Linked DNA regions of Homo sapiens: region 2 is reported to be linked to region 1. The links are microRNA targets in miRTarBase. Many come from high-throughput screens and were not tested one by one. Region 1 holds a microRNA gene; the other region holds the end of a gene's coding sequence.

The links. The annotated mature microRNA hsa-miR-6750-5p reads CAGGGAACAGCUGGGUGAGCUGCU and lies in region 1 at 4,049-4,072, opposite strand. An mRNA with a match to its seed (bases 2 to 7 or 8) in the 3' UTR can be bound and repressed. Matches are read on the target gene's strand: a 7mer-m8 pairs with bases 2 to 8, a 7mer-A1 pairs with bases 2 to 7 and ends in A, and an 8mer does both.
Region 2: miRTarBase lists HIRIP3 as a target of hsa-miR-6750-5p. Seed matches in the 3' UTR shown: 7mer-m8 at 6,266-6,272.

What each region holds. Positions count from the first base shown.
Region 1 is chr11:64,894,361-64,910,949 of GRCh38, forward strand. It overlaps MIR6750 (microRNA 6750), which reads right to left and starts at 4,077; the gene lies at 4,003-4,077. It overlaps ATG2A (autophagy related 2A), which reads right to left. Exons shown (of 41, transcript NM_015104.3): 11 at 16,447-16,589; 12 at 16,256-16,348; 13 at 15,680-15,835; 14 at 15,321-15,564; 15 at 14,911-15,007; 16 at 14,631-14,790; 17 at 13,388-13,530; 18 at 13,165-13,304; 19 at 12,895-13,079; 20 at 12,305-12,455; 21 at 11,974-12,173; 22 at 11,753-11,833; 23 at 11,382-11,488; 24 at 11,203-11,295; 17 more. The coding sequence ends at 613. It overlaps MIR6749 (microRNA 6749), which reads right to left and starts at 8,095; the gene lies at 8,027-8,095. RefSeq lists an enhancer at 5,961-6,090.
Region 2 is chr16:29,986,636-29,994,433 of GRCh38, forward strand. HIRIP3 (HIRA interacting protein 3) reads right to left here. Exons shown (of 7, transcript NM_003609.5): 4 at 7,271-7,798; 5 at 7,005-7,173; 6 at 6,824-6,922; 7 at 5,695-6,735. The coding sequence ends at 6,572. TAOK2 (TAO kinase 2) reads left to right here. Exons shown (of 16, transcript NM_016151.4): 16 at 1-1,758. The coding sequence ends at 1,345. Among named protein-coding and RNA genes, the nearest start is that of HIRIP3, 5.1 kb to the right of the region's middle. RefSeq lists enhancers at 4,197-4,784, 6,472-6,972, 6,973-7,473.

The DNA of each region.
Region 1 (16,589 bases):
GGAAGGCGTGCAGGGCTGGGTGCCTCTGGGTCCCCCTGTGCCCTGATCTGCTGGGCAAGGCCAGGAGGCATGGCGACCCCTGGTGGTGACATGGGAGGTGCTGGGTGCAGAGGTGGGATCTGGGGCGGGGCCAAGGTCAAGGCTGAGGCCAGGGTTCACAGGGACAGAGGATCTGAGAGGGGGGCTGGCGGTGGGCAGTTTATTCCACTTCATGCAGACACTGACCCACGCACTCACGGAGCTTAAAAATAATACATCGAACCACACGGATATCATCCCCTCCTCCCCCCAGACACAGAAAGACACTTGGCTGAGTGGGATGGGGTCCGAGGGTCCAAAAGCCTCCGTCCTGGGAGAAGGCAGCAGTGTGGGCCCAGGTCGGGGGAGGGGCAGTGTCCTTTCTCCCCGGAGGAAAAGTGCAGAGCCAGGGCTAAGGCCCCAAGGCAGGGAGGCCCCCCTCTCACAGCAGATTGGCAACGGGCAGGCTGGGAAGGCGTCCTTCACAGTGGCCATCCCCTGAAGGGCCAGGCCGGGCCGGGCCCGTGGGCTGCAGCTCTTGGGAGGCTCAGGAGCATGGTGGGCAGCACCCTCTGGGTGCCGGGCACCCCAGGCTCAGTCTTGGGCACTGTCCGAGCGCCACTTGAGGGCGTGGTCCTTGTGGGCGTCGGGGACAATCTGGTTGCGCATGCCCCCGAGCAGGCTGGACGTGGCCTCCGTGGCCAGGATGAGCGGCTTCACCACAGTCGGGGGCAGCTGGCGGATCACGCCCCCCACGGCGCCCGTCAGCCCCTTCTGCTCATGGCCCCGCGATGCCACGTCACAGATGGTCTGAGCTGTATCCAAGATGCCCTGTGGAAGCCAGAGGTCAGGGCGGGGTCTGTGTGAGGAGATGGGCATGGGGGACTGGGGCAGGGCGGGGGCCTGGTCACCTCTCGCACTGTGTCGTAGGCCTTGGCCACACCCTCCCGCAGGTCGGCAGGCTGCTGGCCCCTGCGCAGCCTCCGCGCAGAGCGCTTATCCTGCAGGGAGCGGGAGACGGGGGCTGCCGGGGACAGGATGTCATACACGGTCTCAGCTGTGGCCTGGGGGACATGGGAGCACTGGATGAGGACAGCTGGCTGGGGCACACGTCAGCCCCAGGCCCCCAGGACAGTCTGAGACCCCACCAGCCCTCAGCCTCCCTGCCTGTCACTGTGCTGGCCTAGGGGGTCCTGCTCAGCCTCACTCCCCACTTCCTCCCACTCTTCCTCCCCTTCCTAGGCACCTGCCACTCTGCTGAGGGAACCTAGGAACGTGGGACTCCTCAGGGGACTTTCCTAAAGTCTTCTCAACCCAAACCTCTCTTCCTGCTGACCACCACATTCAGCAGGTTCCACATGGCTGCCGCAGCTGCACGCCTGAGACTGACCGCTCCTTGCCTGGCCCCCCAGACGCCCCTGCCAGATGGTCAGAGGCCCATCCTTCCTTCTGTCTGCCAGATCCTCTGCCCAGCATCTCACCTGGCATCACTCTTTCCCACCTGACTGAACACTCCCGGGGGCTCCCTGGTGCCCATGCATCCCTCCCACCTCCCCTGGAGCCCTGCCCTCTGTCCTGTTGGGGTCTGAGCTTGCAGGTTCCAGAATGCACCATGCACCTGCACTCACCCCTTAGCCGCCTAGGACCATCGATCCCCTACAGAATTCATCTGACAACTGCCCACGAGACTGGCTCCCCAGCTTCCCTGGGGTCCTTCTGGCCTAGCGAAGCGTATGGCCTGAATGAACCAGGGCAGCCTCTGCGCCTCAGATTCTTAGTCTGCAAACACAGCCGTCCTCCACCCCCCTTTACAAGACATGCCATGAGCAGGAGACACAGTGGGCTCTGAAGGCCTGGGGGGCACTCCCGCTCCTGCATGGGAGCCCCTGTGGGCCTCGGGAGACCTGGCTTGGAGGTCCCAGGCAAGTCACTTAGCCTCTCCGTGGCTGTTTCTCTATAAAGTAGGGCTGTCATACCCAGACTGCCCACTCTGAGGAGCTTTGAGGACAGAACCAGGGAGCTGTGGTGCAGAGGGCTCCAGCTGCTCTGTCCTGCACAGCCCAGATACAGGGCACCCACTCACCTGGATAGCCTGTACCAACCGGTTGCTGAGTTCCAGGGCGGCAGAGGCTGTGGATGAGCCAAAGGAGGCAGCCCCTCGCTGCAGCCCCCGCATGAGGCGGCCATCCTTCCTGTACTGCTCAATGGGCAGCCACAGCAGGTCCCGGAACCCTTGGACTAGGGGGAAGGAGCGCTCAGAGACACCCGAGGCTGCCCTGCCCCCACCTCCTCCTCTTATTCCCAATGGCAGCTTCTAGGTTGCCCAAGGGTAAAAGCAGTTTCGAGGGCTTCCAAACCTAGACACTCACAGAGCTGGACAACCGAGTGCATGGGGCCCACGCCTCCCAGCAGGCCGGGCAGCTGGTTCTTGCGGATGTCCTGCAGCCACTCGTTGAGGGCATAGCCCAGCACCTTGTCCACACCCAGGAGCCTGGCAGGGCAGGGAGGTGAGGAGGCAGAAGGTGAGGCAGAGCCACACATGGAGGGATTGTGGGGTCAGGAGGACTCAGTACCCCTGTGGCAAGTACTGTGGGCACTCTACCCTCCCTGTGGTCCCACCCAGTCATGTGCAGAGGGACTGTGTCCTTTTTTTTTTTTTTTAGATGGAGTCTTGCTCCGTTGCCCAGGCTGGAGTGAAGTGGTGCGATCTTGGCTCACTGCAACCGCCTCCCAGGTTCAAGCAGTTCTCCTGCCTCAGCCTCCTGAGTAGCTGGGATTACATGTGTATGCCACCACGCCTGGCTAATTTTTGTATTTTTAGTAGAGACGGGGGGGTTTCACCATGTTGGTCAGGCTGGTCTCGAATGCCTGAATGTGTGAGCCATCATGCCCAGCCAACTGCGTCCTTTTTACAGAGGAGAAACTGAGGCCCTGAGAAGGGTGATGACTTGGCCAAGGCCACACAACCAGTCAGGACCAGAACAGAAGGAAGATCAGGGACCCTGGAGAGAGGCTGGGGTGCTGGGGACTCACCCGTGCCTGCAACAGAGCCGCTTTAGCTTCAGCTCGGAGCAGTTGAGTTGGGCCAGGCCGATGAGGAGGCCAGCAAAAGTGCCCTGGGAGAGGGAGGGGGTCCAGGTTTACCCAATGGGACTCAGGGAGCTAGCTAGCCCATGGGAGCCACTGGAGAGCGCCCTGGCTGCTAACAGTGCCTGGATGCAAGACCTGGCCCCCAGAGGGACTCAGCCACAGCTGACCCCACATGGCCACCCCATCCGACCGCCCCACTTACCACCTGGTCCATCGTGACGTGCTTGCCATGGTAATCCAGCCAGATGGGGACCTCAGACGTGAAGCGGAACTCTCTGGGTAGGGGAGCAGGAAGAGGGGGTTCTTTGCTCACTGGCCTGGCCCCCAGCAATCTGGCCCAGGGCCCCCCACCCGCAGTCCAGCAGCCTACCTGAAGTAGATGGGCTGCTGGTCAGGAGGGGAGGGGCTGTGTCCACCTCCTGGGGCCTCCTGCGAACCAGTGGTCTCTACGCCTTCGGCCTGCCCTTCCAGGGGGCTGCTGGGCTGGGCTCGAGTCTCGGGGCGAGCTAGGGGAGGGGAGGTCACAGACTGGGGATGGGGCCAGGAATGACTGGGAACCTGTGCTGTCCTGGGAGGCAGAAGGCCCAGACGCTCCCCTCCCTGGCCCAGCCTCTCACCCTCAGCGGAGGTCTCCCCTGGGACCACGGGGTTGATGCCGGCCACCAGACTAGTGAAGAAGTCCTTGAGGAAGAAGAGGGCATCCTGCAAGGGAGAGGTCCAGATGTGGATCAGACTCAGAGGCCTGGAGACAGTGGGGTCACCCTAGGCTCTGCCCTCACGTAGACCACTCACCTGGTCCACATTGAGCCGCAGGGGCATCAGCGAGACGCGGAGACAGCACTCAGGCCCACCCAGGTTGGTAGTGGGGGCCACATGCAGCGCTTTGATGGTGAGCTGGGAGCAGAGGGTGAGTTCTGGACACCTGCTGGGCCTCTGGGGCAGCAGCTCACCCAGCTGTTCCCTGACAGCTCACCCAGCCACCCTGCCTCTGAACACGCTGTTCCCTTCGCTAACACAGCCCCTAGCTCTGCCCTTCTCCCAGGCTCACAAACAACCTGGGTGTTTGTGTGGGAATGCGTGTATGTGTGTGAATCCATGCATGCGTGAAGATGTATCCCCAACGGTCTGGTGCCCTGCCCCAGGGTGGATGGTGCAGGTCGCTCATACCATGTTAGAGTGGGCACGTCGCGGCATCCGCTCACTCGTGTGTAGGTACAGGAACTTGTTGATCTGGGAGGAGGCGAGCCGGTCTCGGACCTCCAGCTCCTGCACGATGAACACCTGACGGGACAGCGGTCGCTCCTCCAGCTCCTGGCTGGGGGCCGCAGGGCCTGTGGCTGGCTCCGCTGGGTACACCTCGTGCTGGAAGCTTACCTGTGGGGTGGACAGAGGCCTGGCCAGGTAAGCAGGGCCCCAAGAGGGAGGGAAGGGCTGGCCCCAGACCCCTTCTCTATTCTTTTTTTGAGACAGAGTCTCACTCTGTCGCCCAGGTTGGAGTGCAGTGGCGTGATCTCGGCTCACTGCAACCTCTGCCTCTCGGGTTCAAGCGATTCTCCTGCCTCAGCTTCCCCAGTAGCTGGGATTGCAGGCATGTGCCACCACACCCAGCTAATTTTAGTAGAGACAGGGTTTCACAACGTTGGCCAGGCTGGTCTCGAACTCCTGGCCTCAAGTGATCTGCCTGCCTCGTCCTCCCAAAGTGCTGGGACTACAGGCATGAGCCACCATGCCCGGCCCCTACCCCTTCTCTATTCTATGCCCAGCAGGGACCTGCCTCTCCCTCCAGACCTGACCCTGCTCTTGCTTCCCATGCCAGCTGCACTGGTCTCTGCCCCTCAAGGAGTCCAGGCCTGTTTTGCCTTCAGGACTTTGCTCTCGTAGCCCCTCTCCGTGGAGAGCCTTCCTTCCCCCTCTTCCTGCACACCCGCTGGCTGGCCATCAGGTCTCAGAGAGGCCCCTGGCCCCCTGCTCTGACACTCATCTCCCGCAGGTTCTTGCAGCACAGCCCACCAACCCGAGCAGCCTGAGGCCCCTCTGCCCTTTGCCTCTAGCGGCTCCTTGGGAAGCCCAGCACTGGCCTGGCTCACTCTGAGCAAGTGGGACCCCCCTGCCCCAGGCAATTTCCCAGGCCCAAACCTTGAACCCTCTGTACCACTCTCTGTATCTCACACACCCCATCCGCAGCTGAACCTGTGGCCAGCCCCCATCTAGGCTCTCCTGAACCTGCTCACTAGCCCTCCCTGATTGCTGCAGAGCCCCACCCCACAGAGGCCTCTCCTCAAAAGCCCTGAGGGGTTCGTCTCTTGTAAGACTCAAAAGAAACATTCTGGGTCGCTGGTTATGCACAGGCTCTGCTGCTCCTGGAAATGTCAGGATGCTTCCAGCTTCCAGCATTTTTTTTTTTTTTTGAAACAGAGTCTTACTCTGTTGCCCAGGCTGGAATGCAATAGGGCGATCTCAACTCACTGCAACCTCTGCCTCTTGGGCTCAAACAACTCTCCTGCCTCAGCCTCCTGAGTAGCTGGGACTATAGGCACACACCACTGCAAATGGTTAATTTTTTTTTTTTTTTTTTTTGGTAGAAATGGGGTTTCGCCATGTTGCCCAGGCTGGTCTCAAACTCCTGAGCTCAGGTGATCTGCTCTCTTCGGCCTTCCAAAGTGCTGGGATTACAGGCATAAGCCACCATGCCTGGCCCCAATTTGCGGCTTTCACGCTGTCCTCTCTGCCTGAAAACTCTTCCTGGCTCACATCCCCACTTGTTCAGGTCTTTGTTCAAATGGTGCCTTCAGAAGAGGACTTTCCAGACCCTCCCCAGCACACCTGTCTCCTCCACCCCTGCAGACTCTCCCCTGAGCGCTCTTCACCATCGGACACACTCGATACATCTTGGTCCCTGCCTGGCTTCCTCCACTACAAAGGCAGGGGTTTTCCTCTGCATTAGTCATTGCTACACGTGACATCGAGAACAAGGCCCGTTGTTCTATGACACACACGTGTAGTAGGCACTCGCCACCCCACTCACCTTGCTCAGCTGGATCTCCATGAGGACATGGTGCTGCCGCCCGCTGCCCCCCTGCGTGCGCCATGAGTTCTGGGGCCGGTTGGGGCCAGAGCAGCGGGAAGGGGAGCTCCTGGGACCTGAGAGGCCAGTTCTTGCCCTGGGAAGAGGGACAGGGGCCAAGCTGACTCAGAGGAACCCCATTCCCTCCCCGTCCTCAGCGGGCCTTTTAGCCTGGGACAAGAGACCCCCGCTAGCCCCAGTCCTGGAAGGCAGGCGGGATAAGGAAGGATGAGGAAACTGAGGCCCACCTGGGGTGGATGGGGCTCAAGGTCTCCAGCTGCTGAAAGTCAGACCTGGACCAGCCTGAGCCCCAACCTTCACCAGCTGCCACCTGCACCCGCTCCTCCTCACCTGTGGCCGGGGTGGGGGCCAAAGTCTCGGCCCCCATAGAGGTGCCAGACGAGGGAGACCTCACGTAGCACCACCCGAGTGCTGGGCACTGGGAAATGGGCAGGTGCCCGCAGCAAGTCCGTGCTGCCGATCGGCCGTGAGAAGTAACCGTCCCTCACAACGATGGGGCCGGGATGCAGCTGTGTCACCACAGGCTCCCCATCTCGGGGCTGCAGGGAGGCCAGGTAGACGTGTGACACAGATGTTCGATCCAGCCCAGCTGCCCCCAGCCCCAGCAACCTGGCCTCACTTCTTTTTCATTTTTTTTTTTTTATAGACAGGGTCGGGTCATGTTCGGTCACCCAGGCTGGAGTGCAGTGGCACAATCACAGTTCACTGCAACCTCTGCCTCCTAGGCTCAAGCGATCCTCCATTCTCAGCCTCCTGAGTAGCAGGGACTGCAGACATGTGCCACCATATCTGGCTAATTTTATTTTTATTTTTTGTAGAGACGGGGTCTCACTATGTTGCTCAGGCTAATCTCTCATTGCTGGACTCAAGCAATTCTCCCACCTTGACCTCCCAAATTGCTGGGATTACAGGCGTAACCTACCATGCTTGGCCTCCTCCCTGTTTTTGATGAAAGATGACACTCCTGGGTTGCTATCACCCGAGTCTATGCCTGAGTGGTCTGTCCAAGAGGAGCCTGAGAATGCCAGGCTCCTGCCAGCCCTGCCTCCTAAGACCTGGGTGAGTTCAGACATTCCCACTGGCCCTTGCAGCCACATGGTTCTCCATCCCTCTTGCTAACTGCCCTCTCCTCTTCCTCCATCCCTTGAATTTCCCAGTCCCTCTGCCCAAAACACCAGGCCTCCTCTTCCTCTGGAAATCCCCCTACTCCATCAAAGCCCAGCATCAGGGCTGCCTCCCTAGGGTGGCACAGACCTAGCACCACCCCCGAGGTGATGGCAACCACCTCCTGCCTGCTTCTCTCACCACGGGAGCTCCAGATGGCCAGGCAACCACCCCTGAGTGTTCCGTCCCCGCTCCAAACACACCTGCCTGGACGGCAAACTGGTCCATCCCTCCCACCACGCACCGGGATGCCCAGGCCGGGAGCATCAAGGATGCAGAACTCATCACTGTCCAGGGTGTCTCCATCGCCCTCCTCTTCCCTTTCATCTTCCTTCTCCTCTGAGCATGACCCTAAGCTGCCAGCAGGGCCCCCGACAGGTGGTGAAGGGGGTGGGGCCCCACTCCGTTCACCTGGGAATAGGTAGACGGAGATGGGCGACGCCTGAGGGAGGTGGCCACCTATAGGAGAGAGGCCAGTTTGGAGAGGCGCCCACAGTGGGTGCCTGACTGTGTCTGCTGTCCCCACAGCACCCCCACTTCACCTGAAGGCTGGGCCAGCTCCCGTAGGCTGCGCTCGGTGTCCAGGAGGGCGTCGGCCAGGTCACGCTGGTTGATGAGGGCCGTCTCCACTGGGGGGCACGAGGGCAGAGAGGCAGGACTCTCCGAGAGCTGGGCCAGGCAGGGGAGGAGCAATGAGTGAGACAGGACAGAGCTCCCCCAACCCCAGGCCCGAGGGCCATGGCAGGGGAGGGGCCTGGCCGAGCTCTGGTAGCCTGTGTGGCCAGGCCTCACCTGTACCTTCTGGCCGGCGATCTCCGTGGGGCTGGGGGGCCGGGGTGGGGGGTGCAGATCGCCTGTGCTCATTACGTACTGGAGCAGGTTGACCAGCAGGGCACAGGAGTCGGCACAGCTGTGCACGTGTACCACATTGTTGGAGCAGCGCAGCTCGAATAGTGGCTGGCTCTGCAGGGGCGGGGTGGGGGGAGCAGCTATGTGAACACAGGGGCCACTGCCTGCTGGCCCCACCCGCTCGCTGGGAGGGCACCGCAGTTCTGATCCTGCCACAGGCAGAACAGGGATGGTCTCTCCTGGAGTGGATGACCTGCCCAGTAACTCCACTGAACAGATGAACAAACTGTTCACCCAGAGGGTGAAAGGGGCTTGGCCCAGGGCCATCCAAGGAAGCAGGAGTGTGCCCACCCACCCTACCCCACTCCCCGTGAAGGGCTCTGCATGCCTAGCGAGGCAGGGCAGGTTATCTCCATCTTACAGGAGATGAATCCGGGGACCTACAAAGGTGGCTGATTCCCAGGGCCTCGCTGGTGCCCTGGCTGCCGCGTCCTCTGGTGGCAGGGCTGAAACCCATTCATTCATTCAGCCAGCATCAAGGGACACCCCCACCAGGGCTGTACTATGGCCCTTTGCAGGAGGGGCGCTAACTGCAGCCCAGGAAGGGCAGGCATGAACTGTGTCCGGAGCCCAGGCACGTGAGGGAGCAGCAGCCCCTGAAGACTCCCTTGGCCCCTGCACCTGCTGTGGCTCCAGGAGCCAGAGTGACAGCCTCACTCACCAGTTTGCCCTCGGTGCTCCCTTTCCAGGTTTTAATCACAAGTTCCAAGAGGTCAACATCCAAAACACAGACATAATCTGCAGCAGAGGCGAGAGAAAGGTCCTGTGGCCCCCTTCCACCCGGCCCCGGCCCCAGCACCTGGGGGAAGGATCCGGTTGATCCAGGTGTAGTCCCTGCTGTGCGGGCTACGTGTGGGAGCTAAGGACCCGGCCAGCAGCTGCGGGGAGACACCTGGCTGCTCTGGGTGTGGCCGGGGCGGTGGTCCCTCAGAGGGGAGGGAGCCCAGTCCCGGCCCTGCCCACCTCGCCGCAGGTCCAGGGTCTCCACCTCACACTTGTCGGACAGGTACAAGGCGGAGTCATCGAGGATGAACCTGGGGGGGAACAGGGCTGAGAAGGGCCCGGGCACCGCTGCAGGGGGCAGCTCCACGGGAGCCGAGCAGAGGGGTCCCAAGCCCACAGGAGGTGGTATGGACAGGCCCCTCCAGCCTCAGCGTTCCTGCCTGCACAATGGGGAGAAGGCCCAGACAGCAGGCAGTGGGAAGCGGGCAGCACTTGCAGCTCTCAAAGTGCCTGCAGTTCCGACACCTCAATGGGGCCTCATGACAGTCCTGGGAAGGGGTGTCCATTTTTCTCCCTGCTGCATTTGTGGTTCTTCTAAAATAAGTCCTTATTTTTGGCTGGCGCGGTGGCTCACGCCTGTAATCCCAGCACTTGGAGAGGCTGAGGCAGGCGGATCACCTGATATCAGGAGTTTGAGACCAGCCTGGCCAACGTGGTGAAACCCCATGTCTACTAAAAATACAAATATTAGCCGAGCATGGTGGCGGGTGCCTGTAATCCCAGCTACTTGGAAGGCTGAGGCAGGAGAATCTCTTGAACTAGGGAGGCAGGGGTTGCAGCGAGCCTAGATCACACCACTGCACTCTAGCCTGGGCGACAGAGTGAGACTCCATCTCAAAAAGAAATAATAATAAGGGCTGGGCATGGTGGCTCATGCCTATAATCCCAGCACTTTTGGAGGCCAAGGCAGGCGGATCACGAGGTCAGGAGTTCGAGACCAGCCTGACCAACAAGGTGAAACCCTGTCTCTACTAAAAATACAAAACTTAGCTGGGTGTGGTGGTGGGTGCCTGTTGTCCCAGCTACTTGGGAGGCTGAGGCAGGAGAATCGCTTGAACCCAGGAGGCAGAGGTTGCAGTCGGCTGAGATTGCGCCACTGCACTCCAGCCTGCTGACAGAGCGAGACTCTGTCTCAAAAAAAAAAAATAAATAAAAAAGTCTTTATTTTAAGGGTAACATAATGAAAACTCCTTTAAGATATTTTAGAATAAAGAAAATAAAAATCATTCATCATTCCTAATCCCTAATTCTGAGAAAACCACCATACACATCTCCTTCCAAACTTTCTCTGCAGCTGCACGCCGAGACATATAAACACCCCTTCATAAACTGATTTTAAAACGTACGCAGTCCTGTATCCAATGTTATTTGAGTAAACACTGTACTGTGGCATCTTTCTATATTTTTTATCTATCTATCTATCTATCTATCTATCTATCTATCTATCTATCTATGTATTTATTTGAGACGGAGTCTCGCTCTGTCACCCAGGCTGGAGTGCAGTGGCGCAATCTTCGCTCACCGTAACCTCCGCCTCCCAGATTCAAGTGATTCTCCTGCCTCAGCCTCCCAAGTAGCTGGGACTACAGGCGCCTGCCACCACCCCCGGCTCATTTTTGTATTTTTAGTAGAGACGGGGTTTCACCATATTGGCCAGGCTGGTCTCGAACTCCTGACCTTGTGATCTGCCTGCCTCAGCCTCCCAAAGTGCTGGGATTACAGGTGTGAGCCACCGCACCCTCCATCTTCTTATATTTTGAAGGGATTCTTCAGCTTCACCTTAATCCCTGCATGGTTTTCTACCTACTAGGTGGGCCATGCTTATTTGCTCAGGTTGTGAGGCTTGTGATTTAACTGATACGTTTTGGCTGTTTTAACTTATACTCCATAAGCATTAAATCCCACCTCTCTTATTCGCATATCCTAGGACAACCCTCAGACATGAGATTACAGGTCAGAGAGCACAAATGCTTATAAGGGTCTCATCAGGAGGCTCCAACTGCCCTCTAGAAAGGCGGAAACAATCCACATTCCTGAGAATGAGACTATCACCCGGGTGTACATTAAGACCGAGAGCACCAGAGGACACACAGCTGGCAGGCAGCTTCGGCCCGGCGAGGGTGGGATGGCCCAGTGTGGGGCGGCCTGCATACCTGAGCAGGAAGGTGGAGGTGTCCATGATGATGTTGCTGGAGAGAGTGAAGGTCTCCGCGGTGATGAGGACACGCACTGGGAGGTAGAGTGGCCTGGGGGTGATACTCGGGCTGGGGCCGGCTCCTTACACCTGAGAGCCCATCCCCGTCCCCAGCCCCTGGCCCACCCAGCCTGGTACCTATAGTCCACAGAGCAGGAGAACAGGTGTGTGTGCAGGATGGTGATGACCGTCGGGGGCAGGTAGCCCAGCACAGGGTCATCCAGCACGTCTAGGAACTCCAACAACTTCAGAGGCCAGGGCAGGAGGAAGCAGTGAGGATCAGGTGGTGTCCTCCCTCCTCTAACCCCTCCCTGTCCTGGCCCCTGCCTGGCACCTCACCTTCTGCCCACTAGCTGTCTGCCACACCCCTTGCCCAGGAGCTCCGGACAAGGTCAGCTGTGGCCCAGTCCATGTTCCTCCCACCGGCCTCCTCCCACCTAGAGACCTGCTTGCCCAAAACAGAAGTCCAGAGTCACTGGGCCATGTGGCTTCCCACCACCCACGCTCACCTGGGAATGCCAGCTCTGCTCGGGCAGGGCCATGTAGTGGCGCAAGGTGGCTTTGTGCAACCGCAGTGTCACCAGGAACTCCTGAGGGTGGGGGCGCAGTCAGGGCAGTGGGGAGGCCAGCCCCACCGTGCACTGGGGCCTCACCGCGCACTGGGGTCCCACCGCACACCGGGGCTGCAGCCCAGGCTAGCAGGAGGGGTGGATGGTAGGCAAGCCCATACCTTCACATTCTTGTGGGGGTCCAGGTGGATGCGCACAGCAGTGGACAACATGTGGGGTCCCCGGCCCTGGCCCTTGCGGCCCGAGGCTCCCCGCTCGGTCACCCCTTCCTCCGATGGGTAGATGGTTGGGGCCAGCTGAGCCGGGGGAGCGAAACTGGGAAGGTCCAGGTGACTGGGCAGCGGGTAGTCATCCACGGCCGCTGGGGAGGGGTCTCATGAGCCCCCTGCCAAGCCAACTGGCTACCCACTCCACCCAGGGCCCACATCCGTCCTGAAAGCCCTCCACCCCCAACCCTGGACCCCAGTGGTGACCTGCCCCCAGGCCTCACACCTCGGTGGTAGAGTGTTGCCTTTTCAGCTTCCAGACAGAAGTAGCCAAGTCCTGGCTGGCCACAGTACTGGGAGACGCTGAAGAGGGTACCGTGCTCCATGTCCAGCACCAGCTCCCCGTGCACAGCCTCCAGCCGCTTCCCACCCTCATCCTGCAGAAGGAGCACACAGCCTGGCTTCCCCAGCTGCACTCAGCAACCCTCAAGCCCTCTGGGGGTTGGCGGCTCCTGGAGCCCTGGCCTAAGGGGGTCAGCTCCAGTTTCCACCATGGACGCTGCTGGAGGCCCTGGATGGCACTTGCCTCTTTTGCCAGGAGAAAAATAATCTCTGCCGGGTCTGCCCGCTCGGAGTGGGAACAGTGGGTGCTCCATGCCCATCCCGACCCCTAGCATGGTGCTTTACATACAGCAGGGGGTCAGAAGGAGCTGATGGGCTGTGACAGGGTGGGCAGGCTGGCGTGGGTGGGCTGGCGCTGCCCACTCAGGCCTCCTGCTCTCCACATTCTTGACCTGGAGCTGCTCGCGCTGGTCTTGCTCTGCCGCCAATGGGAGCTCTGAAGTTTGGGGCCCGCCTGCCCGGGGCTGCACTCACCTTGGTCTCACAGAGGGCTGTGATCCGCCCCTTCAGCACTGTCACCAGTGTAGAGAAGGTGCTCTGCAAGTGAAGACTTGGGGCCTCAGGGGCAGCGGCCTGTGGGCCACCTGATGCCCCCACTGAGAAGAAGTGGGCATCCTCGTCATCCGAGTCCGAGTCTGGGGTGAGATCAAAGCAGTTGGCTGGGAAGGAGACCGCGAAGGGCTAGCCTGGCCCTTCCCAGACCTGGGGGTCCTCCCTCTAGCCCAGCGTTAGCACCTCTCATACCCAGCTTGAAGGCTGACTTGCACATCTTAAAGCTGTCGTGCCAGAAGCCTGAGGGGCCGGGGAAGCCCGAGGGCTGGGCGGCGGGGTCGGGGGTGGGAAGCAGATCTGCAGGCTCCCACATGAGCAGGTCGTTGTTGATCCTGAGATAGGCGGGTGGACAGCAGGTAAGGGAGGCCAGGCCCACCCAGTGTCCAGTCCCGCCCTGCTGGCCCCGGGTCTCCACCTGTTGTAGATGCTCTCGTAGACCTCCTTGCTGGGCAGAAAGATGTGGACACTGGGCAGGATCACTTCCAGGCTGCAGCGGGACAGTGCCAGGGTCCGGCTCTGGAACGTCCTCATCTCCTCAGGGTCTCCAGGGATCACCATCTGGACAGGGTGAGGTGGAAAGAGCAGGAGAGTCATCTTAGAGACGCTGGCTGGGGCCTGTCTCTGGTCTCAGTCCTGCCCTCCTGTCGTTCATCATTCATTCATTCATAGGAGCCCTTCTCTACTGGGGATGCATGATAGCCGTACAGATACAGTGCTGATGGCACACCTGTGCTGTTCTAAGGGCTTCAGGTATGTTAACTTCTTTCATCCTCACAACAGGCCTGTGACACAGGTTATGGTTAGGCTGGGCGCGGTGGCTCACGCCTGTAATCCTAGCACTTTGGGAGAGTGAGGAGGGCAGATCACTTGAGGTCAGGAGTTCGAGACCAGCCTGGCCAACACGGTGAAACCCTGTCTCTACTAAAAATACAAAATTAGGCCAGGTGCGGTGGCTCATGCCTATAATCCCAGCACTTTGGGAGGCTGAGGTGGGTGATCATTTGAGGTCAGGAGTTAGAGGCCAGTCTGGCCAACATGATGAAACCCCGTCTCTACTAAAAATATAAAAATTAGCCGGGCGTGGTGGCACGCGCCTGTAATCCCGGCTACTCAGGAGGCTGAGGCAGGAGAATCGCTTGAGCCTGGGAGGCGGAGGTTGCGGTGAGCCGAGATCATGCCACTGCACTCCAGCCTCGGCGACACAGCAAAACTCTATCTCAAAAAAAAAAGAAAAAAAAAGAGAGAAAGACAGGTCATGGTGCCCATTTTCCAGGGGAAGAAACTCATCTATAGGTAACTCTTCAAGGTCAGATAACTCCCCAGGGTGATGACACAGTCACCAAGTGGCAGAGCCTGGCCCTTAACTGCCTTTCTAAGTGTACAGTGCTGATCCACGGGTCAGGTGGGGCAGGACCTGATCTTTCCAATCGAGGACCCATGCTCCCCAGGGGCCTGCCCTCACCAGTGCCGTTTCAGAAAGACTCTCTGACTGGCTGGAAAGAATGGAAGAGCCGAAATCCTCACTGGTGTTGGGTCAGCTCATGCCCACCCCAGGTGGTCGTGCTGCCCTGGCCCACAGCCACACAGGTGGCTCCTACGGCAGGAACCCGGGCGGTGGGCGGGAGGGGGTCCTGGGAAGAGGTGGGGCCAAGTCTCACCTCCTCTGTCTCATACATGGTCCTCTTAGAGGAGAAGGGCGAGGGCTCAGGTTCCCGCAGCTCACAGGGACTCTCCACTGACAGCTCCAGTTCCTCTCCCTTCTCCGGGGCCACCTCCCACTGTGTGCTGCTGGACTGGGGGTTCACAGTCACCACTACCCTGCCGGGGCACAGGCCTGTTACTGGCCTGCAGGGCCCCCGGCACCCAGTTCCAAACTGGCCCCCTGCCACCCCCAGCAGAACCCTCCTCTCCTGGGCCCAGTCCAGAGCCCCTACTTACTGGGGCAGGAAGTACTTGCGCCCAGTGCTCTTGGGGTCCAGGGCTTTGGAGACACGCAGGCAAGGGACAGGTGGCTTCCCTCCATCTTCATAGATACCTGGAGGGGGATGGGGAATTAGGGGGGTCATCACTGCTGCCTTTTCCTATTTCTTCCCCAATGCCCAGGTCGGCTCAGAGCTGTGCCCCCGACTCCACACACACCTTGGTGGGCAGAGAAAGCCAGAGACAAAGGGTCCACCCTACTTGTCGGTGAGGAGGCCGGGGACAGGCAGTGCTGGGACCCCAAGAGCTGGTAAAGGCCTGGGCCAGGGACTGCTCGGGTTGTGACTGGGCCCCTTCCATAGCCCCAAGCCCATCTCTCCCAGAAGCCAGGCCTCTTGCCCCAAGTTCTGTCACTCGGGGGCTCTCACCATGTAGGTCGGAGCAGGTGAGTTCCAGGTGGGTGGGGACTGGGGGACCAGGCCCACTGCTAAGCTCTGACCGGAACTGGGGCTCACTCAGCTCCAGCCGAAGCTGCTCAGCCCGCACGGCCTGGCCCGCCCAGGGGTCCGGCTCAGGCCGCAGGTCGGCAATGGGGAAGCGCAGCCGCAGCGTGGCCCGGGGTGCAGAGAGCCGAAATACCGTCTGCTGCTCCATCGCCGGCAGGGGCTCTGTCTGCAGGAGGATTGGGGGTCAGAGCAGCCGTCGGAGCCCCTCCCACTGTGACCAAGAGCCGAAGGACCCAGGCCCTGCACCCACCCCCGGCCTGGCCCTGGCAGGGGCCTCTCACCAGCAGGCCGGCTGGAGGCTCAGCAGGTACGGTGGCCAGGCGCAGTAGGGCGGCCAGCCGGTCCAGGGCCCCCAGCTCCACGTCCGCCTGGAAGTTGGCCAGGTCCAGGGCCAGTTCTGAGTGGCAATGGCAGGCAACTGAGCGCCGGGGTCGGCTCTGAGGGCGAGGGCGTTCAGGTCAGTGAGGGCTGAGTGGTACTCAGCGGGTGGGACAGGAAGGCCCTCTCTGGTAGTGGGAGAAGAGCTGGGGCAGGGGCCACGAGAGCACTAAGAAGGCCTGCCCCACCTTTGCCCGACGCGCACAATGTGCTTGTTTACTTATAAAAGCCACCCGACATGCGCCACTCTTAGCAACAGAGGCCAGCCAGGGGGCCATATTGAGATAGGGCAAGGGCATGACCAGGCTCAGAGACTGGCATAGGAAGGGCCAGGCAGGTATTTGAGGGCCCCAGCATGGAGAGATGTGGAGCACAGGGGAAGAGGGACAGGGCTGGGCAGCAGAGGAGGCCCTGGCAGAGGCCAGGGTGGGGTCAACACGCCATGGGGACAGCCTGGTGGCCTGGAGCGGGTGGGTTACCTTAGGCACACGGCGCAGGATCTGTGTGTGGCGCAGATGGGCGCAGGGCCGAGCTGAGGCCTGGGAGCCCAGCGTACCAGGAAAGGTCAGGATCTGGGATGGGACCCGGGAGGCACACAGGGTCAGGCCTGGCCCCACAGCCACCCAAACCTCCAGACCCCGCCTCGTACACATTCTGCCTCTGCCCTCACCTCCGTGTACTCAGGCTCAGAGGTGCCCCGGGGCCACAGACACTCCAGCACCTCCAGCTGCCCGAAGTGCACTTCCATGCTGGTTGTCCGCCGGCCCCGACTGCCCGTCCGCAGCTCCCAGGACAGCTGCACGGCTGTGCCCG
Region 2 (7,798 bases), not on the chromosome of region 1:
GCTTGGCGAGGAGGAGGAAGCAGTTGGAGAGAGAAGGATTCTGGGAAAGGAAGGGGCCACTTTGGAGCCCAAGCAGCAGAGGATTCTGGGGGAAGAATCAGGAGCCCCTAGTCCCAGTCCACAAAAACATGGGAGCCTGGTTGATGAGGAAGTTTGGGGTCTGCCTGAGGAGATAGAGGAGCTTAGGGTGCCCTCCCTTGTACCCCAGGAGAGGAGCATTGTTGGCCAGGAGGAGGCTGGGACATGGAGCTTGTGGGGGAAGGAGGATGAGAGTCTTCTGGATGAGGAGTTTGAGCTTGGCTGGGTCCAGGGCCCAGCACTGACTCCCGTCCCTGAGGAGGAGGAAGAAGAGGAAGAGGGGGCTCCGATTGGGACCCCTAGGGATCCTGGAGATGGTTGTCCTTCCCCCGACATCCCTCCTGAACCCCCTCCAACACACCTGAGGCCCTGCCCTGCCAGCCAGCTCCCTGGACTCCTGTCCCATGGCCTCCTGGCCGGCCTCTCCTTTGCAGTGGGGTCCTCCTCTGGCCTCCTGCCCCTCCTGCTGCTGCTGCTGCTTCCATTGCTGGCAGCCCAGGGTGGGGGTGGCCTGCAGGCAGCGCTGCTGGCCCTTGAGGTGGGGCTGGTGGGTCTGGGGGCCTCCTACCTGCTCCTTTGTACAGCCCTGCACCTGCCCTCCAGTCTTTTCCTACTCCTGGCCCAGGGTACCGCACTGGGGGCCGTCCTGGGCCTGAGCTGGCGCCGAGGCCTCATGGGTGTTCCCCTGGGCCTTGGAGCTGCCTGGCTCTTAGCTTGGCCAGGCCTAGCTCTACCTCTGGTGGCTATGGCAGCGGGGGGCAGATGGGTGCGGCAGCAGGGCCCCCGGGTGCGCCGGGGCATATCTCGACTCTGGTTGCGGGTTCTGCTGCGCCTGTCACCCATGGCCTTCCGGGCCCTGCAGGGCTGTGGGGCTGTGGGGGACCGGGGTCTGTTTGCACTGTACCCCAAAACCAACAAGGATGGCTTCCGCAGCCGCCTGCCCGTCCCTGGGCCCCGGCGGCGTAATCCCCGCACCACCCAACACCCATTAGCTCTGTTGGCAAGGGTCTGGGTCCTGTGCAAGGGCTGGAACTGGCGTCTGGCACGGGCCAGCCAGGGTTTAGCATCCCACTTGCCCCCGTGGGCCATCCACACACTGGCCAGCTGGGGCCTGCTTCGGGGTGAACGGCCCACCCGAATCCCCCGGCTACTACCACGCAGCCAGCGCCAGCTAGGGCCCCCTGCCTCCCGCCAGCCACTGCCAGGGACTCTAGCCGGGCGGAGGTCACGCACCCGCCAGTCCCGGGCCCTGCCCCCCTGGAGGTAGCTGACTCCAGCCCTTCCAGCCCAAATCTAGAGCATTGAGCACTTTATCTCCCACGACTCAGTGAAGTTTCTCCAGTCCCTAGTCCTCTCTTTTCACCCACCTTCCTCAGTTTGCTCACTTACCCCAGGCCCAGCCCTTCGGACCTCTAGACAGGCAGCCTCCTCAGCTGTGGAGTCCAGCAGTCACTCTGTGTTCTCCTGGCGCTCCTCCCCTAAGTTATTGCTGTTCGCCCGCTGTGTGTGCTCATCCTCACCCTCATTGACTCAGGCCTGGGGCCAGGGGTGGTGGAGGGTGGGAAGAGTCATGTTTTTTTTCTCCTCTTTGATTTTGTTTTTCTGTCTCCCTTCCAACCTGTCCCCTTCCCCCCACCAAAAAAAGAAAAAGACAAACACAAATAAAATATCTGAGCGGAACTGTGCCTTTGGCCCAGGCTGCCTCTGTCTGCTTTGTCCTGCCGCCTAGCCTCCCCGGTATGCCCCCAGGCTGACCCTCGGCCCGGCTCCATGACCTCTTCACCCCATCTCCGTTATCTCAGCCCCCTCACTCCTCCAGCCTCATGCTCTCTGCCTTCATAGCTTCATTGCACCATGACCACCACCGGCTCTGGGGTCTGGGCCCCTGTAGAACTTCACCGAACTTCTTGGTCCCACAGAGCGCCTGTTTGCGGGTTCCTTCCAGAGGTCTTAGTTTCCAGGCCCTTGGTCTCCTCATCCCTTGCCTTTTCTCCCAACCATGGCTGCAGGGGACCAAATTGCTCTCCTGCATCAGGCATTACCCTAGTGGGTTGGGGGACGGGGCTGCAGACCCTCCACAGTAGGGGGTGCTGAGCTGGGGGCAACCAGGCGGAGTATGAAGGCTGTGGCAGCAGGATTGAGTGTGGGCCTGGAGTGGGAGCTGAGTGTGTGAGGGGCCGGGCTGGAATGCGGATCTGGTCAGGGTGGTAGCTGCTGGCCGGTTGAACTTGTCAGGCCCTTTCTGGCCACCTCCTTTGCCCCTTTCTCCTCTGCGGCCCAAAATGGGGCAGCCCCTTCTTACCCATTTCTCAGCTCGGTGCTTCTCCTCCTTCCCTGCCTTCCTCCCTGAGCTGCTGGACCTGGGACTTCCTGTGTCTGTCCTTAGTCGTGTTGCTTTCTTCATGGGTGTTTTGTGTGACTGGTTCTTCTCGCTTGTTCTCGTGCACGTTCTCATATTTGCTCACGTGCTTCTGTCTCTAGGTCACAGTCTCTCCCTCTTTGCCTGGTCAGAGCTTCCAAGATCCTCAGTTCCCTGTCCAGTAACTCCGATGTTCTTTCTCGTGGGTATCGCACCCAACTCCGTGCACGTGCTCTTGGAACCTCTTGTCTTCTCTGCATCTCTTGCCCATCGAGACCTTCCTGATCTCTCTCAACACGATCCCACCTCTCCATGTCTGTCTGTCTGTATACAGCTCCCCCCACCCCCTCTGTCTAACATGTTTTCTGTTTCTCTCCCTCTCCCTGTCTCTGCTTCTGTCTCCTCTCCTCTTCTCTCTCTTCTCCCCATTTCCCCTGGTTGTTCCTCCTCTTCCTCTTCCTCCTCTTCCTCCTCCTCTTCCCCGCTGCCCCCATCTCCCCTTGATCCGTCCACTGCATAGTCTAAGGAGCTGCAGATCAAGAAGCAGTTCCAGGAGACGTGTAAGATCCAGACTCGGCAGTACAAGGCTCTGCGAGCACACTTGCTGGAGACCACGCCCAAAGCTCAGCACAAGAGCCTCCTTAAGCGGCTCAAGGAAGAGCAGACCCGCAAGCTGGCGATCTTGGCGGAGCAGTATGACCAGTCCATCTCAGAGATGCTCAGCTCACAGGCGGTGAGGCCTGGGGTCCAGGGAGGGAGTGCGCTAGAGGCCAGGCTCTGTACTTTGCTTTAGAGAAATGGACGGTGCAGGGCATGCACAGAGCTGGGGCTTTTTTACTTGGGAAACTCACATACTCTCCCTCTGTTCGTGTTCTCCACAATGATTTATTTCATATTCTCCTCAGTGGTTTTATTCTTTCTCTTAGTATTTTCTTAAGGTCTTGACAAAGCCATGTGCCTATTCCCAAGAACCACCAAGGAAAAGAGTGGCTATTATTTTTTTCCTGGGCCTGAGTTAGTTTAATGGGTAAACAGGGTGCAGATTAAAGTGAGTGTGGCCCTCAAGCCCATTTACTCAGACTTCTGGAGGATTTTGAAAGTTGCTGTTCTAAAAAAATGATCACACCTAACACTGGAATGGGCCACTTAAAATGTGCGGAGAGGGTGGAGAGTGGAAACGCCCCACCCAAGGCTGTTCTCTCACCCAGTCCCACCTCTCCCAGGTAACTTGTTAATAATTAACTGTATTTTGTGTTTTTTCAGTGCACATTTTGAAAAATTATATGAATTTTAAACACAGATGGAATCATACTTTACATTTACTTTCTGTAACTTCTTTTTTCCACTTAATATTTCTTGGACATCTTCCCCTGTCAGTACACCTGTCTCATTTTTTTTACAGCATAGAATTTTCCATGGTATGGCTGTACCATAATTTATTTAACCCATCCCTTATTGGTGGACATTTAGGTTGTTTCCAGTATTTTGCTATCACAACGCTTCCGTGAACACCTCGAGCACATGTGCAAGTATACCTGGGGGATAGATTCTGCAGTGTAATTGCTGTGCCACAGGGTATGACCATCTTCCATTCTGATAGATGTTGAGACCGCTGCTTCTTGAAACCTTAGGGCCCAGGCCTACCTGGGGCAGGGGAGGATAGTGGGGGTGGGGGAGGAGATCCCTACAACTGGTTGTTCATCTTCCCCAGCTGCGGCTTGATGAGACCCAGGAGGCAGAGTTCCAGGCCCTTCGGCAGCAGCTTCAACAGGAGCTGGAGCTGCTCAACGCTTACCAGAGCAAGATCAAGATCCGCACAGAGAGCCAGCACGAGAGGGAGCTGCGGGAGCTGGAGCAGAGGGTCGCGCTGCGGCGGGCACTGCTGGAGCAGCGGGTAAGGGGCCCAGCCTCCAGGACTGGGGAGGGAGGGTGGGCTCCTGCCCCCGACTCTAACCTCTGTTCCGGATGCCCCAGGTGGAAGAGGAGCTGCTGGCCCTGCAGACAGGACGCTCCGAGCGAATCCGCAGTCTGCTTGAGCGGCAGGCCCGTGAGATCGAGGCCTTCGATGCGGAAAGCATGAGGCTGGGCTTCTCCAGCATGGCTCTGGGGGGCATCCCGGCTGAAGCTGCTGCCCAGGGCTATCCTGCTCCACCCCCTGCCCCAGCCTGGCCCTCCCGTCCCGTTCCCCGTTCTGGGGCACACTGGAGCCATGGCCCTCCTCCACCAGGCATGCCCCCTCCAGCCTGGCGTCAGCCGTCTCTGCTGGCTCCCCCAGGCCCCCCAAACTGGCTGGGGCCCCCCACACAAAGTGGGACACCCCGTGGCGGAGCCCTGCTGCTGCTAAGAAACAGCCCCCAGCCCCTGCGGCGGGCAGCCTCGGGGGGCAGTGGCAGTGAGAATGTGGGCCCCCCTGCTGCCGCGGTGCCCGGGCCCCTGAGCCGCAGCACCAGTGTCGCTTCCCACATCCTCAATGGTTCTTCCCACTTCTATTCCTGAGGTGCAGCGGGGAGGAGCAGATGAGCTGGGCAGGGCAGGGGTGGGTGGAGCCTGACCCTGGAGGGCACTGAGCTGGAGGCCCCTGCAAGGGTAGGGGACAAGATGTAGGCTCCAGCTCCCCTCAGACCTCCTCATCTCATGAGCTTCTTGGGGCTGGCCAGTGGCCCAGGGCCAGCTTGGCGATAGGTGCCTCAAGGCTGCCTGGGAGCCCCGCCTCCCTACCATGGTGCCAGGGGTCTCCCTCCGCCACCTAGGAAAGGAGGGAGATGTGCGTGTCAAATATTCATCTAGTCCCCTGGGGGAGGGGAAGGGTGGGTCTAGACATACTATATTCAGAGAACTATACTACCCTCACAGTGAGGCCCTCAGACCTGCCACAGGGCAGAGCAGGTCTGGGGCCTGAGGCAGGGAGAATGAGAGGCCACCTTACTGGCAGGAAGGATCAGGATGGGGTCTTGGGGTCAGGATGCCTGGGTCTCTTCCCGTAACTGTCTGACGTCCTGTGCCGTCTTGTCCTTTATCTTTTTTTTTTTTTTTTTAATTGGGATCAGGGCTGGGGCGGGGAAACAAGGGAAGGACCTTGGAAGGGGCTGCTCCCAGGCCTGGGGGGCAGTCGTGGGAGCCCCTCTCAGCTGTGGGGCTGGCACAGAGCCCCAGGCAAGCTTTTAATAAACTGTTGGTTATTCTAACAGATCTCAGGACTCACCCTTCTGTCTTTGGTGTGCGTGAAGGACTGCTCAGTGGCCACTGAATAGTACTGCTTGTGTTTTATAAAGAGAATTTATTGGGCTGTGTATCTAAACATTTCAGTGATTTTAATGACTTTAGGTGTGACCAGATCTCGGATCTCAAAGGTGGTCTTCAACCCCTTGACCTCTAATTCGTTTTCTTTGCTTTGACTTCAAAGATTCTTAGGTTTGCCTCCCACACAGACCCCAGGCAGCTCCATGCTCACGAATCTTCCCGCAAGCCTCAGCAGCCAGAGTTCAGTGGAGACCTCATGTGACTGCAGAGGCTGGGCCTGTAGCCAGAGGCCTAGAGGGCTAGGACTGGCCCAGGAGGTATGGGCTTTTCCCCACCCCTTTGAGGCTAACAGCCCATGGACAAAGTGGCTGTTTGCATAAGGGAGAAGGCTTAAGCACTGGCTGCCCTCAAGTCATTCTATCCCTCTCCCAAGTGGGCATTAGGTTATCAGACTAGGCTAAAAGCAGAGGGGCCACGGGGTAGGCGGGCAGCACAGGAGCCACACACCCTTCTCCAAAAGGGTCTGGTGGCTGTTGGATGACAGGGTCTGGAGGCAGGGACTTCTTCCAGGAACCCGGGGGAAATTAAAGGGAACCAGGCCAGGGGAGGAGGTGGAGGCAGTGACTACTGCTCAGTTTCCTGGCCCAAAATACAGGAGGTGAGAATGGGGGACCAAATTTGATGAGGTGATTAAAAACACTCCTTTATTGAGTCTTAAAAAATAAACACCTTAAAGGGACAGCGTGAAGCTGAGAAGTAGCATCCCAACAGCTTGTGTCCTTGGGAGCTGCAGTCTTCTCTGAAGGAAGCTGCTTCTGTTCCACAGACACAGGGCAAGGGGTGCTATGTATGCTTTGTACATGTATCAAGGGTCCCTCCTGGGGGTGGCAGAGCTCAGTTACTCTCGCCATCACTGCTGATGATGCCACGCATATGTGACCAGTCTGGGGGTGCGGGACGGGGCCGCTCTTCATCTGAGTCCAGGGTCCGTCGGTACAGCTCCCCTGGGGGTGCTGCTTCTCCTAAAGGGTTCCAGGCTGTACGTCTGCGTGGCCGGCCTAGGGGAAAGGGGAAACGAGAGATCAGATGTCTGAGAAGGTCCAACCCCACCTATCTGCTCCTGGGCAGTGAGAGGAAACCCCTTACCCGAGCCACTGATGATGTTCGCAACATCCAAGGAGGCCACCTCAGCTGCCTCCTCCCTCTGCTCCTTCAGGGCCCGACACTTCCCTAGGGAAGGGGTACCTGGGGCAGAAGAAGCTGGTGATTCTCTCCTCCCCAGCAGGAAGGCCCTCTCCTGCAGCCCCCAGGGCACGCCGGGCCTCACCCTTCATGCCTAGCGCTTCCAGTTCTGCCCGGAGGATACTCAGGCGCTCCTTGTGTGAGCAACAGGAGCCCAACAGCTTCTTGTAGTTTCGATGGGCACCACAGGCCCGAATGTAGCGCTTCAGCCTCATCACAGCCGGGTGGTCCTCTCCACGGCGACCTGAGCCAGCCTAGCAAGGAAAGAGCAGCTGAAGGCCAAGCCTGCTGGGCCTGAGGCAGGGTCTCCCTCTTCCCTAATAGTGGCCTCCCACCCCTCCTCACCCTCACCTTCCCTCCTTTGGCCTCTGGACTTCCATCTGAGGAGGAAGAGGAGCTTCGTGTCCTGCCTTTCCTGGAGCTCTTCTTGGAAGAGCGGTTCTTCCTCTCCCCCTGGGGGCCTCCCCCTGCCTCGCTGTCACTTACCTCCCTCTCCAAGTCACTTTCCTCACCACTGGTGCTGCCCAGTCTGGCCATCTTTCTAGAGCCTTTAGCTGTGGGTTCCCCCTTCCCACTGTCTTCCTCGTCCTCGCTGCTTCCACTCAACCTCTTCCCACCCTTAAGCTGGGTCCTGTCCTCACTCTTCCTCTGCACTGGGGGTTCTCTATCTCTCCCACTGTCATCCCCACTGCTGGCTGCCTCTTTCTGCTCTTCCTCGCTGTCTGAGTCTCCCAAGAGCCTCTTTGCCTGGCTTTTCTGCTTACAGCTCCTCTCCTCCCTAGCTGACTTTCTCCGGCCATTGCTCCTGGTTCTGGGTTTCCAATCCCCCTTTTCCTCATCCTCTTCTTTCTCTTCCTCCTCCACTTCCTCCTCTCTCTG